Homo sapiens: one gene and its partners. The protein of the gene in region 2 purifies or fractionates together with the protein of the main gene of each other region. This does not show direct contact. Each region holds a gene or a part of one and is shown on either strand. Other genes may lie near its edges. The genes, in order: CD207, SUSD3, SERPINB4 and EVPL.

What was found.
Region 1: the proteins of SUSD3 (region 2) and CD207 purify together in Homo sapiens (affinity purification with mass spectrometry; 3 studies listed by BioGRID and IntAct, with this or other methods). This does not show direct contact.
Region 3: the proteins of SUSD3 (region 2) and SERPINB4 purify together in Homo sapiens (affinity purification with mass spectrometry; 3 studies listed by BioGRID and IntAct, with this or other methods). This does not show direct contact.
Region 4: the proteins of SUSD3 (region 2) and EVPL purify together in Homo sapiens (affinity purification with mass spectrometry; 3 studies listed by BioGRID and IntAct, with this or other methods). This does not show direct contact.

The regions. Positions count from the first base shown.
Region 1 is NC_000002.12:70,829,711-70,833,520, reverse strand, and holds the end of CD207 (C-type lectin domain family 4 member K), read left to right. Parts: intron 1-469; coding exon 470-621; intron 622-1,701; coding exon 1,702-1,820; intron 1,821-2,320; coding exon 2,321-2,471; 3' UTR 2,472-2,599; coding exon of another isoform or gene 2,600-2,712; 3' UTR 2,713-3,310; downstream 3,311-3,810. UniProt on the Homo sapiens protein: Calcium-dependent lectin displaying mannose-binding specificity. Induces the formation of Birbeck granules (BGs); is a potent regulator of membrane superimposition and zippering.
Region 2 is NC_000009.12:93,082,187-93,085,823, forward strand, and holds the end of SUSD3 (sushi domain-containing protein 3), read left to right. Parts: intron 1-2,350; coding exon 2,351-2,561; 3' UTR 2,562-2,947; downstream 2,948-3,637. UniProt on the Homo sapiens protein: May play a role in breast tumorigenesis by promoting estrogen-dependent cell proliferation, cell-cell interactions and migration.
Region 3 is NC_000018.10:63,636,299-63,641,500, reverse strand, and holds the end of SERPINB4 (serpin B4), read left to right. Parts: intron 1-509; coding exon 510-627; intron 628-1,724; coding exon 1,725-1,867; intron 1,868-2,160; coding exon 2,161-2,316; intron 2,317-3,377; coding exon 3,378-3,782; 3' UTR 3,783-4,242; downstream 4,243-5,202. UniProt on the Homo sapiens protein: May act as a protease inhibitor to modulate the host immune response against tumor cells.
Region 4 is NC_000017.11:76,005,934-76,010,599, reverse strand, and holds the end of EVPL (envoplakin), read left to right. Parts: intron 1-56; coding exon 57-3,497; 3' UTR 3,498-3,755; downstream 3,756-4,666. UniProt on the Homo sapiens protein: Component of the cornified envelope of keratinocytes. May link the cornified envelope to desmosomes and intermediate filaments.

The DNA of each region.
Region 1 (3,810 bases), on a different chromosome or scaffold from region 2:
GGCTAGGAAGTTAAGGAGAGAGGGCTTGAGGTTGGGGAGGACTTAGGGGCTGTTAGGAGAAAAGAGACCAGGGTCCAGCTAGAGCTCCCACACAAAAGTGCAGAATGTAAAAGCATTAGGGGATGTCCACCCTGGCCCACACCTAGTCATTTCCCATCAAGTTCCTTTCTAGAGTCCAGGGGCTCAGCCACTTGTCATGGCCGATGGAGGGTTGCTTCCTCATCATGGGGAAGACACTCTTTGTCCAACCTCTTGCATTATAACCTCTCCAGTCCCAGAGACTCTATTAGTCTCTGTCTGACTTTCAGGATTTGAAAGAGTGTCCCTAATCTCCTATACAAGGACCCAAGGACACCAGCGCACAGCTCCATTTGCTGCTGTCTCTGAGACCTCATTCAAGTGCCCCCACCAAGCCAGCATCCCAAGAAATCAAGAATACCAGCGTTCACTTTTACCTCTTGTTCTCTAGATGATATTCTACAGGTGGTTTCTCAAGGCTGGAAGTACTTCAAGGGGAACTTCTATTACTTTTCTCTCATTCCAAAGACCTGGTATAGTGCCGAGCAGTTCTGTGTGTCCAGGAATTCACACCTGACCTCGGTGACCTCAGAGAGTGAGCAGGTGAGTGCTGTGCCTATGGGCTCTGTGAAGGGGGCGTATGAGCACTGGGCCAGGGAGGATGGGCAAGATTATACTGCGTGAACAAAAATCCCCAAATATTGATGACCTAATGAAGAAGGATTGGTTCTCAGTAGCATGTCGAATAAGGGCCGGCAAGGGGGCTGTGCTCACTGTGGCTACTCAAGGACCCAGGCCCAAGGAGTCTTCATCTTAATATGTCTCCACAATTGCTGGGGCAGGAAAGGGGAACTTGACATATTGTGCAAAGCTTCTGCCCAGATTTAACATACCTCATTTTTGCTTACATTTCACTAGCTTAAGTTATGTTAATTAAGTTAAGTAAGTTATGCAGTACTCCTGGATTGGGAGGATCCTGGATTCCAGTACTCCTGGAACAGGGCAGAGAGGATCTACTTTCCATGTGCCCAGAAAAAAAGAAATATTTGTGAACAGCCTTAATGATTCCACATGACTCAAGAAGTCTCCTGCCTGGTGAGGCAGAAATTGGGCAGGCCCTTTTCATCTGGGAGGTGGGATAGCAGAGCAGGTCAGAGCCTGGGCTCTGGCGTAGTTCTAGAGCCTGAACCTTGCCATCTAACTAGTCCTAGCAGCTTGGGTGGAATACCCAACTTCACTGGGCAAACTTCACTGGCCCTCACTTGATGAAACATGCATGGTGATGGCACCTGCCTCAGAGGAAAGGAGAGAATGCATATGGACGACTCAGCACAGTGCCGTATGTGGATTCAGGGCTCATTTAATTCAGGTATTATCATATGAACCATTCTCTTGCGGTCCGTGCTCTGGAGTTCAGCTGAGGCCTTCCTGTGCTTCAGCACCTGCTTCCTGAGTGGCAGAAAGGCTTGAGTCCTGAGCTTGTTAGCTGCAGAGCAGGGACACATCATAATCTGGAAGATGAAATCTGGGCTCTGGGCAAGGGCAGGAAGAAGCTTGAGAGGCCAGTTTGTGCAGCGCATCTGTGGGTCAGGGCTGTCACTGAGCGCAGGTGAAGAACACCCAGAGACAGATGATCAAGCTCCAAGTGTGGCCGCACCTCTGCTTATCCTGTCTTTCCTACAGGAGTTTCTGTATAAAACAGCGGGGGGACTCATCTACTGGATTGGCCTGACTAAAGCAGGGATGGAAGGGGACTGGTCCTGGGTGGATGACACGCCATTCAACAAGGTCCAAAGTGTGAGGTAAGCCCCTGGAGCCCTCCGTGCCAGCCTGACTTTCCCCGGCCATGGCCAGGGCATGAAGGGAGTGGGGGCGATGTTCCCCATGAGACAGGGTTTCTGATTCTTCCCTGTCTTAGAGTGACAGGAACATTGCAACCAAGATCGAGCACAACCCTGTCACCAACTGGCTGTGGACCTGAGCCCTCCACGCCCTCTGGGGTTTGGCAACAAGGCCTTCTACCTGGCCAGCTTCAGGGATCTTGTCATGAGTCTAGGTCTTCACAGTGTGGGTTTGTGTAGGGACTTGAAAGTGGTGGGTTGGTTTGGCCTGGACTTGGGGCATGTGAAAGCTTAGAGGTCGAAGTCTCACCAGTCCCCTTCCTCTGAGGCTTGGGTGCAGACATTTGCTATGCCATTCCCTAGGACAAAAGCTTGGGTTGAGTTAACTCATTTCTTCACTGGAAATAAGTTCTTTTTGATTTTCCACTTTGTAAATCCATCTTTTTCCCCGCTCTTGGTAGGTTCTGGATTCCAGGTGAGCCCAACAATGCTGGGAACAATGAACACTGTGGCAATATAAAGGCTCCCTCACTTCAGGCCTGGAATGATGCCCCATGTGACAAAACGTTTCTTTTCATTTGTAAGCGACCCTATGTCCCATCAGAACCGTGACAGGACAGGCTCCCAAGCTCACTCTTTGAGCTCCAACGCTTGTTAAACATGAGGAAATGCCTCTTTCTTCCCCAGACTCCAGGATGACTTTGCACGTTAATTTTTCTTGCTTCAAAATTGTCCCACAGTGGCATTCTGGAGTCCGTCTGTCTTGGCTGGAAATTCTCTGACGTCTTGGAGGCAGCTGGAATGGAAAGGAGAATTCAGGTTAAAGTGGGAGGGGTGGGTAGAGAGGATTTAGAAGTTCCAATTGCCCTGCTAAGGAGGATCAAGACCCGTAATCCGGCATAACACCCTGGGGTTTTCCACTCTTTCAGAGAAACCTCAGCTTCATCACATCAAAGTTACTCCAGAGCAACCAAGCAATTCTCCTGATATTGTCATCCAGGGCTTTTCTTGGCCAAACCCCCTAGAATTTCCATGTCTCTGCTTAGCTGTGCTGGCAGCTAGCAGCTGGCTGTGTTTGCAGTGCAAATAGCTCTGTTCTTGGAAATCCTGCTCATGGTATGTCCCCAGTGGTTTCTTCATCCACATCATCTAAAGCCTGAACCCGTTCTTCTCTGGTTCAAGTCAGTGGCTGACACGGACTTGTATCTCCTTCAGAGCTCGGCTGGCACCCAGCCTCCCTTCTCCTTCCACTCCCTTAGTACACTGGAGTGCCGAGCCCTGCCTTCCACCCAGCGTCCATCCAGCCCCTGTCCTCACCTCTCCGGCACCTCCTCCTCCTTCTGCATTTCCTATCTTCCTGTGTCTTGTGCATGGGAAGCAGCCTTCAGTGCCTTCATGAATTCACCTTCCAGCTTCCTCAGAATAAAATGCTGCCTGGGTCAAGGACTCACTCCAAGTGCACTTTTTCATTTCTGGTTGTCCAGGTGAATATGTGGGAAAGGCAGTCTCCTCTGGTGGACATGAAGTTCTAGGGTATCCTCAGGAAACATCTGGGGAGTCAAAAATAACAAGGACTGGGGAAGTTCCAGTCCTGGAAATGCCACAAAATGTGACCAGTACTTATCTCTAGTTTTTATTAAAGTAGAGCAAGGTCTCCAATGTCACGATCTTGGTGATCTTTCTTCTTGTTTACTGCACAATCTTCTAGTCTATAGCTCAATTCCCAAGAACAAGTCTCAGCAGGTTCCCCACTCTTCACAGAGACCCAGTTCCACAGGCATCAGTTCCAAATCCCAAGTCCAGTGGCTGAAGCTGGAATCCAGGCAGCAGCCACCACAGAGAGGAGAGGAGGGTGGAGTGAGCACAGGTCTTCATTAAGGTCCTCAGGAAAAGATGCTTCCTTAAATAACTGTAACCAGCAGTGTGTTGTTCTGGGTGCAAATGGGTCACA
Region 2 (3,637 bases):
TGCCATTGCTGGCATGAGTCATTTTCTGTTTTCTCTGCTGAATTACCTCCAAATGTTTTGCTCCATGTGTTGTGGGAGGGCACCTGACCCATCAATTGGCTGTACATTTTTTAGGCCTCTTTCCTTTTTTTTTTTTTTTTTTTTTTTTTGAGGCGGAGTCTTGCTCTGTCGTCCAGGCTGGAGTTCAGTGGCGCGATCTCGGCTCACTGCAAGCTCCGCCTCCCGGGTTCACACCATTCTCCTGCCTCAGCCTCCCAAGTAGCTGGGACCACAGGTGTCCGCCACCATGCCCAGCTAATTTTTTGTATTTTTAGTAGAGACAGGGTTTCACTGTGTTAGCCAGGATGGTCTCGATCTCCTCACCTCGTGATCTGCCCACCTCGGCCTCCCAAAGTGCTGGGATTACAGGCGTGAGCCACCGTGCCTGACCCCCTTTCCTTTTTATTTTAGTTTTGTTGGGGCCATGGTGGCTAATGCCTTTCCTTTTGGGTAGTGAGATATCCAAAGCCACTTTCAGAGCTCCTCCATTGCCCCACCTGTGATCCCCACTCCCCATTACAGCACTGGGACCAGATCATCCTGTGTCATAACTGGGAAAGTGCCCATGGAATGGGGGAAGGAACAATTGCCTCTCAAGGCAACATGGTGTCCAGGATGATGGCAGCCACAGCTGCTGCCGCTGCCGCAGGGGCTTTGCTGGCCAGAGCATGATGCCGAGGGGCTCCCAGGGGTGCTGTTTGGGGCCACACTTCTGCCTGGTCCCAGCGCCACAGACCCTGCCTCTTACACTGCGGGAACTTGTGCAGTGTGTGGTCGGACGTGTGCGTCCCGTCCAAGAGTGGCCACAGATCTGTGTACAGGGCTGTGTTCACCCCCTCTGGGGAGTGAGAGAGCCAGGGCGGGAGGGAGGCACCCTGACAGGGCCGTGAGAGGCTGGAGGAGGCCGGCTTAGGGGCCACTCTGACAGTCAGCTCAAGAGGCAGGAAGTGGTGGTGAGGCTGAGGGGGATTGGGAGGGGGACCCTTAGGGCAGAGCCCCTTCCCGGAGCTCTCTCACACATGGAGACCTCGAGCACTCAGCCCAGCTTCATGGGGACTCAGAGAAGGCGGGTCCTGCCCAGGGCTACAAAGCCGATGGAGGCAGAGTTCCCTGAGTCCCCAGCCCTGGGCCCCGGGCTCCCAGGCAGGATCCTCGGGATATGCCTGTGCTGGGGCTGCCCACCCCTCAGGCAGGGCCCAGGCTGCCTCCATAGGTGGTAAATTGCCTTTAGCAAGGTGAGGTTTGCCTCTTGACCTTGTTTTTATTTCATAAGTACTTCTCAGCACTTGCAATGTGCCAGGCACTGTTCTGAACTCTTCCAAATATTAACTCTTTTCACCTAGGGGTGGGTACTACTTTTATCCCGTTTTCCAGGTGAAGAACTAGGCAGGTTAAGAAACTTGTGTAGACTCCCACACAACCAGTAAGTGAGGCTGGGTGGAGTCAGTCTGGCTCCTGCCTCCCCGAAGCTGCCTTTCGTCTCCACCAGTTATTGATGCTTTCACTTACTCATTGCATAAGCAGATCATTTCTTAATTCCTACTACTTACTAGAGTTTTTCTGAGAATTAGTTGTGGGTGGGAGCCGTGATCCAGGAAGGCTTCCTGGAAGAGGTGATGCCGGAAGTGAAAGGACTAAGAGAGCCTGCTTTGGGAGGGGAGAGAGACAGCCTCTGAGGGGAGGAGAGGACATGCAAAGGGCTGGAGGTGGGAGCCGCCAGGCAGCCCACATGGAGCAGAGGCCAGTGTGTGTGTGGAGGCTGGAGATGGGACAGGGCCAGGGTCTGGTCAGCCTGGGGAATGGCTTGGTTTGTATCTGGGGGAGTAGAGAGCCACAAGAGTACTGAGGGTGGAGCAGGTGGGTGATCCAGCTCCTGGCTACCAAAGAGGCAGGCCTGGCAGGAGGGAAGATGTCCTCCCCTTGACCTCCTGCTCCCCAGCATCCCTTCTCTGCCTGGGACATCCCAGGCCCTGGCCAGACAGCTGGGTTCCTGGTGGTTTCTGCACACTCTGAATGAGCCCCAGGAAGTCCCTTCCCACACCTTAGGGGGGCAAGTGTCTGACTCCTGGGCCACGCCCTGGTTGTGTAGATGAAGGACCCACTTGCCAACAGGGCCCGGCAGGGAGATGGAGTGACCTCTGTGCACCTTAGGGTGCAGGGCAGCTCCCAGCAGGAGGAAACGGGCTCCCCAGTGCTCAGGGCAGCAGTTGCCCCAGGCCCACTGGAGGGCCTGGGTACCTGGGAAGGTATGGAGTTGGGGATTAAACCCTATCCACACTCTTTTGCCAACTCATGCCTCCTCTCTCCACAGAGACCATGGTGAGAGCACCAGCAAGCTGGCCAGTGTGACCCGCAGCGTGGACAAGGACCCTGGGATCCCCAGAGCTCTAAGCCTCAGTGGCTCCTCCAGCTCACCCCAAGCCCAGGTGATGGTGCACATGGCAAACCCCAGACAGCCCCTGCCTGCCTCTGGGCTGGCCACAGGAATGCCACAACAGCCCGCAGCATATGCCCTAGGGTGACCACGCAGTGAGGCTGGTGCCCATGCTCCACACTGGGAGGCCAGGCTGACCCCACCAGCCAGTCAGCTACAACTCCACATCAACTCCACATGCGCCCAGCTCGAGACTGATGAGTGGAATCAGCTTCCAGGTGTAGGGACCCCTTGAGGGGCCGAGCTGACATCCAAGGCTGAGGACCCCAGTGGGGAGTGTTCTGTTCCGGCATATCCTGGCCGTAACGATTTTTATAGTTATGGACTACTTGAAACCACTACTGAGGGTAATTTACTAGCTGTGGCCTCCCACTAACTAGCATTCCTTTAAAGAGACTGGGAAATGTTTTAAGCAAATCTAGTTTTGTATAATAAAATAAGAAAATAGCAATAAACTTCTTTTCAGCAACTACAGAAAACTACCTCAGCATCTTCCTCCACAGGATGTACTGCTTCCAAGCAAGGACCCATGGAGGGTTCTGCATCTGTTGTCTGTAAAAGTGCAGTTGAGGGGTATGAAGTAAAACTAAATAATTATTTCTTTTTTTTTTGAGACAGAGTCTCACTCTGTCGCCCAGGTTGGAGTGCAGTGGTGCAATCTCTGCTCACTGCAAGCTCCGCTTCCAGGTTCAAGCGATTCTCCTGCCTCAGCCTCCTGAGTAGCTGGGACTACAGGTGCCCACCACCACGCCCACCTAATTTTTTGTATTTTTAGTAGAGATGGGGTTTCACCGTGTTAGCCAGGATGTCTCGATCTCCTGACCTTGTGATCCACCTGCTTCGGCCTCCCAAAGTGCAGGGATTACAGGCGTGAGCCACCGTGCCCAGCTAAATAATTATTTCTAATACTGAAAAATACAAAGGTAACAGTGGTTGGTTGATGTTAGAGTCAGCAGAGGAGACTTCCCTTTTTTTGTTTGTTTGTTTGTTTGTTTTCAGAGCTAGTTTCTGTTTAACTCTGAAGAAAAAAATCTGGTATTGGTTAGCAAGGAAGGAGTGTACTGAGGCATGACTGACCTGTCTTAGTCATGGGCAGTTCTCCTTGGCCAAGACAGGTCCATTCAGTCAGTCAGTGGGGCTTAAGATTTTATTTCACAGCCATAG
Region 3 (5,202 bases), on a different chromosome or scaffold from region 2:
TAATAAGATACCATCGATAAACTGGCACTGACTCAGTCACATACGATACATCTTGGTGGGAAATGTATGACTAATGGGATATTATTGGAATGGGCAGGCTTGGGTGAGTTCCTGAGAATAGTTGAGGAAGTACCAGGAAATATTGAATGCACAGGATGAAAGACAAAAACAAAGATCAGAAACATCATGGTTAAAATTACTGGAGAGAAGTCTGAGAAGCAATGAATCTCCTTCAGGGAAGCCTGCTCTGCAGTTTGCAAACCACAGCCTCTTCTGCTTCTGCCTTTTGCCAAGATGATATTGACCTTCAGTGACCTCTTTCTTGTGCCAGCCCACATTCCCCTTTTGCATTGCCTACATGACACCTGTATAAAAATATCCATGGACAGGAGATACTGCATCTATTCAGGGTCTGGATTCAGCTTACTGTTGTTACAAATAAGTAAGTTTGGTAATATATAGTTACATAAATTACTCCTAATTCCTACTTCTTCCTTCATATCTCAAAGGAATATTTAGATGCCATCAAGAAATTTTACCAGACCAGTGTGGAATCTACTGATTTTGCAAATGCTCCAGAAGAAAGTCGAAAGAAGATTAACTCCTGGGTGGAAAGTCAAACGAATGGTAGGAGAGCCACCCATTATAGAAACACCTTTGAGAAACCTATGCCAGTGAGCCTTGTGCTTGACACTGCATGGGGGAACAGGTGTGGGGATTGAGATGGGTTTGCAGGGAGGGCTGAAGAGGGCACTCCAGATGAAGGATTTGTCCAAATGAATATGAAGAGAGCCTAGGGGAGCCAAGGAGGAAATCACAGGAAGCCAATTAGATGGAAACACATCTGGAGAATTATTTGCTTATGGCCCTGCATGACAATAGCTTTGTGGATCCCCTGTCTCCGCTCAGGCCTATTTTGAGATCATATCCTTTACTTTAAATCAGACTCAAATTTTTATGATGAATATTTAATAGAAAACATTAGAAAGCGTCTCTCGTCTCCTTTACTAATTGGGAAACAAGCAGCTCTCTGGTAAATCACCCTTTTGTCTCTGAGCTGGAGCTGCCTGGATCACATCTGTAGCCAATGTGTTCTGCAGGGATTATCACAGCTCTCTTCCCCATCAAGGGCAAAGAGCTTGACAAAGTCTCCATTCTACAGACATCTTTCTTACCTCCCACCTCTCATTACAGGCCAAACTTACAGCAACTCAACATGAGAGTGAATAGGAAGATACCCCCGGAAGTAGTGTCTGACAGCACAGGACATGCGTTTCATATTACAGAGCTCAAGTCACTCATCCTAAAATGCAATCAGGGCCTCCTTCCTCTGAATGGGGACCCCGTAGTTAAAAAAAAATAAAAGTAGGAAGAGGAGGGAGGGAGAAAGGAAAGACACATGTTGGAAGAGTAGACAAAATCAGTTTATCAGTATTCCAAATCAGATGATTGGAGACATTCATACACAGAGAACGTGAACTCCTTCTCTATCACAAGAAGTGATGTCTCCATCAAGGGTAACTTTATACGACTGGAGCCTTGAAGAAAGCTGCATCTGGTGAACCACTGGTCAGTGAGTCTAACAATTCAAAGATCAAAGTCAGTGAGTCTCAAGCAGGGATTTGGGTCAATAATTAACGATCAGTCACGAACATTTGCAAAGCATCTTCCAGACAAGCCATTTGTAGCTTGTGTAAAAGACTCTTTTATTCTTTCCCTTGCAGAAAAAATTAAAAACCTATTTCCTGATGGGACTATTGGCAATGATACGACACTGGTTCTTGTGAACGCAATCTATTTCAAAGGGCAGTGGGAGAATAAATTTAAAAAAGAAAACACTAAAGAGGAAAAATTTTGGCCAAACAAGGTATTGTCTATATTTTATTTATATAGTGTAATATGTTAATACATGGAATGTTAAACATTTCTGATGGAATGTAACATGATAAGTAAAAAATAAAAATTGTTCATGTCTGTTATTTTGTTGTTTTACTCTTATAACTTTATTTAGTTAGGAATACCTGAAAAACTATTGTTTCTAACTCATGGAATTCCTGGGTTATTTCTTAGAAGAAGAAGGATGTGTTGCTATCTCAATAATATTATCTTTTTTGTCTTGTGTTTCACGTGTTATTTGTTGGACACATTGATTTATTGCAGAATACATACAAATCTGTACAGATGATGAGGCAATACAATTCCTTTAATTTTGCCTTGCTGGAGGATGTACAGGCCAAGGTCCTGGAAATACCATACAAAGGCAAAGATCTAAGCATGATTGTGCTGCTGCCAAATGAAATCGATGGTCTGCAGAAGGTAAGAACTTGCATCTACAACTCTTCCTTCTACTGCCGGACATTTTTCCAAAGATACCAAGTTTAAACAAGGTAAAAGCTTATGACCGAGTTGCCTCAAAATGATGAAAAATTCTAAATGAGGAATGATGACTCACCTTCATATTACAAATATTTGAGCATAGGGCCTGACACAAACTGAAAGCTTAGTTTTTGTTTGTTTGTTTGTTTTTATTATTATTATTATAATACTTTAAGCTTTAGGGTACATGTGCACAATGTGCAGGTTAGTTACATATGTATACATGTGCCATGCTGGTGTGCTGCACCCATTAACTCGTCATTTAGCGTTAGGTATATCTCCTAATGCTATCCCTCCCCCCTCCCCCCACCCCACAACAGTCCTCAGAGTGTGATGTTACCTTCCTGTGTCCAAGTGTTCTCATTGTTCAATTCCCATCTATGATTTAATTCCATCTATGGCTTAGTTAATGATTAATTTATTAGAGTTACATGCATTGGATATCAATTTGATGATATTATTATGCAGCAATTTAAACTTGACTGGGAGAAATATATACCAATGTGAGGAAAGTTTACAAATAGGCCGAGTAGAAAAGGGAATACAAATTTAGGAATTTAGGGAATTACAATTTAATAATTGCAATGTGTACTAAATAATGTATACAGAAAAATATGATGAGCCTATTAAAAATTGACACATGTAGTAGGCTGTTGGCACAAGAAATAGTGATACATACAGTTCATTGTGTACAAAATAATGTAATCATATTTTACATGTGTATCATACAGTTGTATACATACATATGTACACATATACATATACGTAAAAACATGATTCTGTTTTTACATACATGTATATACATATACACATATAACCCAATGTATTTATATATTCAGGACTCATATTTTACCTATTAGAATAATAATGTCTATTAAAGTGAACCTTCTGTATTTCACATTTATTGCCAAAATAACGAATCTCCACATAGTCAATTCATTGTTAAGGTGTATTAGAGATCGACAGTTAGTCATATCAGTTTCTTTTTTCCATTTGTATAGCTTGAAGAGAAACTCACTGCTGAGAAATTGATGGAATGGACAAGTTTGCAGAATATGAGAGAGACATGTGTCGATTTACACTTACCTCGGTTCAAAATGGAAGAGAGCTATGACCTCAAGGACACGTTGAGAACCATGGGAATGGTGAATATCTTCAATGGGGATGCAGACCTCTCAGGCATGACCTGGAGCCACGGTCTCTCAGTATCTAAAGTCCTACACAAGGCCTTTGTGGAGGTCACTGAGGAGGGAGTGGAAGCTGCAGCTGCCACCGCTGTAGTAGTAGTCGAATTATCATCTCCTTCAACTAATGAAGAGTTCTGTTGTAATCACCCTTTCCTATTCTTCATAAGGCAAAATAAGACCAACAGCATCCTCTTCTATGGCAGATTCTCATCCCCATAGATGCAATTAGTCTGTCACTCCATTTAGAAAATGTTCACCTAGAGGTGTTCTGGTAAACTGATTGCTGGCAACAACAGATTCTCTTGGCTCATATTTCTTTTCTATCTCATCTTGATGATGATAGTCATCATCAAGAATTTAATGATTAAAATAGCATGCCTTTCTCTCTTTCTCTTAATAAGCCCACATATAAATGTACTTTTCCTTCCAGAAAAATTTCCCTTGAGGAAAAATGTCCAAGATAAGATGAATCATTTAATACCGTGTCTTCTAAATTTGAAATATAATTCTGTTTCTGACCTGTTTTAAATGAACCAAACCAAATCATACTTTCTCTTCAAATTTAGCAACCTAGAAACACACATTTCTTTGAATTTAGGTGATACCTAAATCCTTCTTATGTTTCTAAATTTTGTGATTCTATAAAACACATCATCAATAAAATAATGACATAAAATCATTTTTGCTTTACCTGTTTTCTCTCTGGAAAGGGCAAGTGTCCAGTTACACATAGGAAAGATAATTTAGAGATATATTAATCATATATAAAGGAAAATTAAAAACAGAGTAGTTCATGATGAGCCTGGAGTAGAAGGCATATCCCAGAACAGGAGGAGCCTTGTAAACCACATAGGAACTTCCTATTTTATGCTAAAGGGATAAGAAACTCATTACAGGCTTTGATGGTTGTTTGTCAAAGAGGGGCATAAAATTATCATATCCACATCTAGAAAATACATCTCTGGCTACGCTGATATCAATGGATGCGAGGAAAGAACAGTGTGGTTACCATATATAAATTAGGAAATCATTAGAGTATTGGGAGTGGAAATGGAGAGAAAGAAAGAGCCTGGGGGAATTATTTAGGAAATAATAGTTACAGAAAGACATCTAAGTTGCTGACCTATCTGACTGGATGGATGGAAGAATATCTTGTTTCTGAGAGAAAAAAAGACTTTGGGTTTAAATTTGTACTTGATGAATTAAGGTACTTTTAATATTCAAATGGATTTGCCTGGCAGGCACTTGAAGATATTAGTCTAAATCTCAGAAACAGAATATGATCTGAAGCTCTAAATTTGTGATATTCAATATAAATACTTTAGAGTCATTGGGATAAATATGGTAGTTGTAGCTAAAAGCAAAAATAAGATACTAGGGAGAAAGGATAAAGTTAGAAGAAAGAAGAATCTAGAATTGACCTTGAAGTATATCAGCATGTGTAAAGATCAGGAATTGATCATTTTTATTTTCCAGAAAGTAGCTTTTCTTAGGGTTCCATATTTACTCCCATAGATTCTTCCCAGTCAGTACTGAATCCCACCTGGTTTCATAAAACATAAGTTTTAGAGAATTTGAACAAGGTTGAAGTTTTCTTCAGCAAGATTCAGCAGTCCAAGATGAAGGCAGAGGAAACAAA
Region 4 (4,666 bases), on a different chromosome or scaffold from region 2:
ATGGAGCTCCTATCTCTACCGCCCACCCCGTGCTCTACCCTTCTTCCTCTCTGCAGAAGGAGCTCAGTGAGGACATCCGAAGGACCCATGATGCAAAGCAGGGCTCCGAGAGCCCTGCCCAAGCAGGGAGAGAGTCAGAGGCCCTGAAGGCCCAGCTGGAAGAGGAGAGGAAGCGGGTGGCCCGGGTGCAGCATGAGCTGGAGGCGCAGAGGAGCCAACTGCTGCAGCTGAGGACCCAGCGGCCCTTGGAGAGGCTGGAGGAGAAGGAAGTGGTAGAGTTCTACCGGGACCCCCAGCTGGAGGGCAGCCTGTCCAGGGTGAAGGCCCAGGTGGAGGAGGAGGGCAAGCGGCGGGCTGGCCTGCAGGCAGACCTGGAAGTGGCAGCCCAGAAGGTCGTGCAGCTGGAAAGCAAGAGGAAGACCATGCAGCCTCATCTGCTGACCAAGGAGGTCACCCAGGTGGAGAGGGACCCCGGCCTGGACAGCCAGGCGGCCCAGCTCAGGATCCAGATCCAGCAGCTCCGCGGGGAGGATGCCGTCATCTCGGCCCGGCTGGAAGGGCTGAAGAAGGAGCTACTGGCCCTTGAGAAGAGGGAGGTGGACGTGAAGGAGAAGGTCGTGGTGAAAGAGGTAGTCAAGGTGGAGAAGAATCTGGAAATGGTCAAGGCAGCCCAGGCTCTGAGGCTGCAGATGGAGGAGGATGCTGCGCGGAGGAAGCAGGCGGAGGAGGCTGTGGCCAAGCTACAGGCTCGCATCGAAGACCTGGAGCGGGCTATCAGCTCGGTGGAGCCCAAGGTCATCGTGAAGGAGGTGAAGAAGGTGGAGCAGGACCCAGGGCTCCTCCAGGAGTCCTCCAGGCTGAGGAGCCTCCTCGAGGAGGAGAGGACCAAGAACGCGACGCTGGCCAGGGAGCTGAGCGACCTGCACAGCAAGTACAGCGTGGTGGAGAAGCAGAGGCCCAAAGTGCAGCTCCAGGAGCGCGTCCACGAGATCTTCCAGGTGGATCCGGAGACAGAGCAGGAGATCACTCGGCTCAAGGCCAAGCTGCAGGAGATGGCGGGCAAGAGGAGCGGTGTGGAGAAGGAGGTGGAGAAGCTGCTGCCCGACCTGGAGGTCCTGCGGGCCCAGAAGCCCACGGTGGAGTACAAGGAGGTGACCCAGGAGGTGGTGAGGCATGAGAGGAGCCCCGAGGTGCTGCGTGAGATCGACCGCCTGAAGGCTCAGCTCAACGAGCTCGTCAACAGCCACGGGCGCTCCCAGGAGCAGCTCATCCGCCTGCAGGGTGAGCGCGACGAGTGGAGGCGCGAGCGGGCCAAGGTGGAGACCAAGACGGTGAGCAAGGAGGTGGTGCGCCACGAGAAGGACCCGGTGCTGGAGAAAGAAGCAGAGCGGCTCCGCCAGGAGGTGCGGGAGGCGGCCCAGAAGAGGCGGGCCGCGGAGGACGCGGTGTACGAGCTGCAGAGCAAGCGCCTGCTGCTGGAGAGGAGGAAGCCCGAGGAGAAGGTGGTGGTGCAGGAGGTGGTGGTCACCCAGAAGGACCCGAAGCTGCGCGAGGAGCACAGCCGGCTGAGCGGGAGCCTGGATGAGGAGGTGGGCCGGCGGCGCCAGCTAGAGCTTGAGGTGCAGCAGCTGCGGGCCGGCGTGGAGGAGCAGGAGGGCCTGCTCAGCTTCCAGGAGGACCGCAGCAAGAAGCTGGCCGTGGAGAGGGAGCTGCGGCAGCTGACCTTGAGGATCCAGGAGCTCGAGAAGCGGCCTCCCACGGTGCAGGAGAAGATCATCATGGAGGAAGTGGTCAAGCTGGAGAAGGACCCGGACCTGGAGAAGTCCACGGAAGCCCTGCGGTGGGACCTGGACCAGGAGAAGACCCAGGTAACCGAGCTGAATCGGGAGTGCAAGAACCTGCAGGTCCAGATTGACGTCCTCCAGAAAGCCAAATCGCAGGAGAAGACCATCTACAAGGAAGTGATCCGGGTGCAGAAGGACCGCGTCCTGGAAGATGAGCGGGCCCGCGTGTGGGAGATGCTCAACAGGGAGCGCACGGCCCGGCAGGCCCGGGAGGAGGAGGCACGGCGCCTGCGGGAGCGCATTGACCGGGCCGAGACGCTGGGGAGAACCTGGTCCCGGGAGGAGTCCGAGCTGCAGAGGGCCCGGGACCAGGCCGACCAGGAGTGTGGGCGGCTGCAGCAGGAGCTGCGGGCTCTGGAGAGGCAGAAGCAGCAGCAGACACTGCAGCTGCAGGAGGAGTCGAAGCTGCTCAGCCAGAAGACGGAGAGCGAGCGACAGAAGGCGGCCCAGCGGGGCCAGGAGCTCTCGCGGCTGGAGGCGGCCATCCTCCGCGAGAAGGACCAGATCTACGAGAAGGAGCGGACGCTCCGGGACCTCCACGCCAAGGTGAGCCGGGAGGAGCTCAGCCAGGAGACCCAGACGCGAGAGACCAACCTTTCCACCAAGATCTCCATCCTGGAACCCGAGACGGGGAAGGACATGTCCCCATACGAGGCCTACAAGAGGGGCATCATCGACAGGGGCCAGTACTTGCAGCTGCAGGAGCTCGAGTGTGACTGGGAGGAGGTCACCACCTCGGGGCCCTGTGGGGAGGAGTCTGTGCTCCTGGACCGCAAGAGCGGGAAGCAGTACTCCATCGAGGCCGCCCTCCGCTGCCGGCGCATCTCTAAGGAGGAGTACCATCTGTACAAGGACGGCCACCTGCCCATCTCCGAGTTTGCGCTGCTTGTAGCTGGGGAGACCAAGCCAAGCTCCTCACTCTCCATCGGCTCTATCATCTCCAAGTCCCCGCTCGCCTCCCCGGCCCCCCAGAGCACCAGTTTCTTCTCTCCCAGCTTCTCTCTCGGGCTCGGTGATGACAGCTTCCCTATCGCCGGGATCTATGACACAACCACAGACAACAAGTGCAGCATCAAGACGGCCGTGGCCAAGAACATGCTGGACCCCATCACTGGGCAGAAGCTACTGGAGGCCCAGGCGGCCACAGGGGGCATCGTGGACCTGCTCAGCCGTGAGCGCTACTCTGTGCACAAGGCGATGGAGAGGGGCCTGATCGAGAACACCTCCACACAGAGGCTGCTTAACGCCCAGAAGGCCTTCACCGGCATCGAGGACCCCGTCACCAAGAAGAGGCTCTCGGTGGGCGAGGCCGTCCAGAAGGGCTGGATGCCCCGGGAGAGCGTGCTCCCACACCTGCAGGTGCAGCACCTGACCGGGGGGCTCATCGACCCCAAGAGGACAGGCCGCATCCCCATCCAGCAGGCCCTCCTCTCCGGGATGATCAGTGAAGAGCTGGCCCAGCTCCTGCAGGACGAGTCCAGCTACGAGAAGGATTTGACAGACCCCATCTCCAAGGAACGGCTGAGCTACAAGGAGGCCATGGGCCGCTGCCGCAAAGACCCCCTGAGCGGCCTGCTGCTCCTGCCAGCGGCACTGGAGGGGTACCGCTGCTACCGCTCCGCCTCCCCCACCGTCCCGCGCTCCCTTCGCTGACACGGGCCAAGGAGCCAGTGGGGAAGTGCGTGTGTTGGGCCAGGTAGGATACGTACACCTCTTGCCTCAGAGCAGCCTCATCCCAGGCAGTGGGTCTTCCCTCTGTCCAACCACTGTTTTATTATTTTACTAACATGGTGATGGGCTCCCTCCCCTAACCTTGGTGCCTGATCCATCCCCAGACCAGGACAGCAGCCACTCAGTTCTTCCTCCACCTCCACCCAGTGATCCCAATAAACGAATTCTGTCTCCCCGTGCCATGTGGTGTCCCATTCATTCACATTTGAGAGTGCAGGACCCATGTGTCTGGGGGATGAGTGCAAGGACAGCGTTGCTCAAGTCCTTGCCTGGGCGGACGTGCTCAATTTGCCTGCCTGGGAAACAGGCATCCTCGGAGGGCTGTGCCTCCTTGAGTGCGGGGCAGGGATGCAGTGGCAGGTCATGGAAAGAGATTATGGTTTAAAATCACTAAAGGAGGCCGGGCACAGTGGCTCACACCTGTAATACCAGCATTTAGGGGGGCCAAGGCGGGTGGATCCGAGGTCAGGAGTTCGAGACCAGCCTGACGAACACGGTGAAACCCCGACTCTACTAAAAATACAAAAATTAGCTGGGTGTGGTGGTGCACACCTAAAATTCCCGCTACTCAGGAGGCTGAGGCAGGAGAATCACTTGAACCTGGGAGGCGGACGTTCCAGTGAGCAGAGATCATGCCACTGCACTCTACCCTGGGCAACAGGGTAGACCTGAGACAGCGAGACTCCATCTCAAAAAAAAAAAAAAAAATGGGGGCTTGGTGGCATATGCCTGTAATCCCAGCTACTCGGGAGACTGAGGCAGGAGAACTGCTTGAACCCATGAGGCAGAGGTTGCAGTGAGCTGAGATTATGTCACTGCACTCTAGCCTGGGTGACAGAGTGAGACTCTGTCTCAAAAAAAAAAAAAAAAAAAAAAAAAAATCATGGACTAGCCCCTGTCTCCCCACCTACTCCTTGCCCATTTCCCCACTGTCTCAGTTTGGGCCAGAGCTGTCTCCAGCCCTGTGTCAATGTTCCCCTTGTCAGGAAGCCCAGGTGTCCCCTGTGAGCAGAACAATCAGAAAACTCAGGAACATACCACGTTTATTTATTGTTGTCAAGCCAGAAATGAACCAAAAGAAGCACATCTCA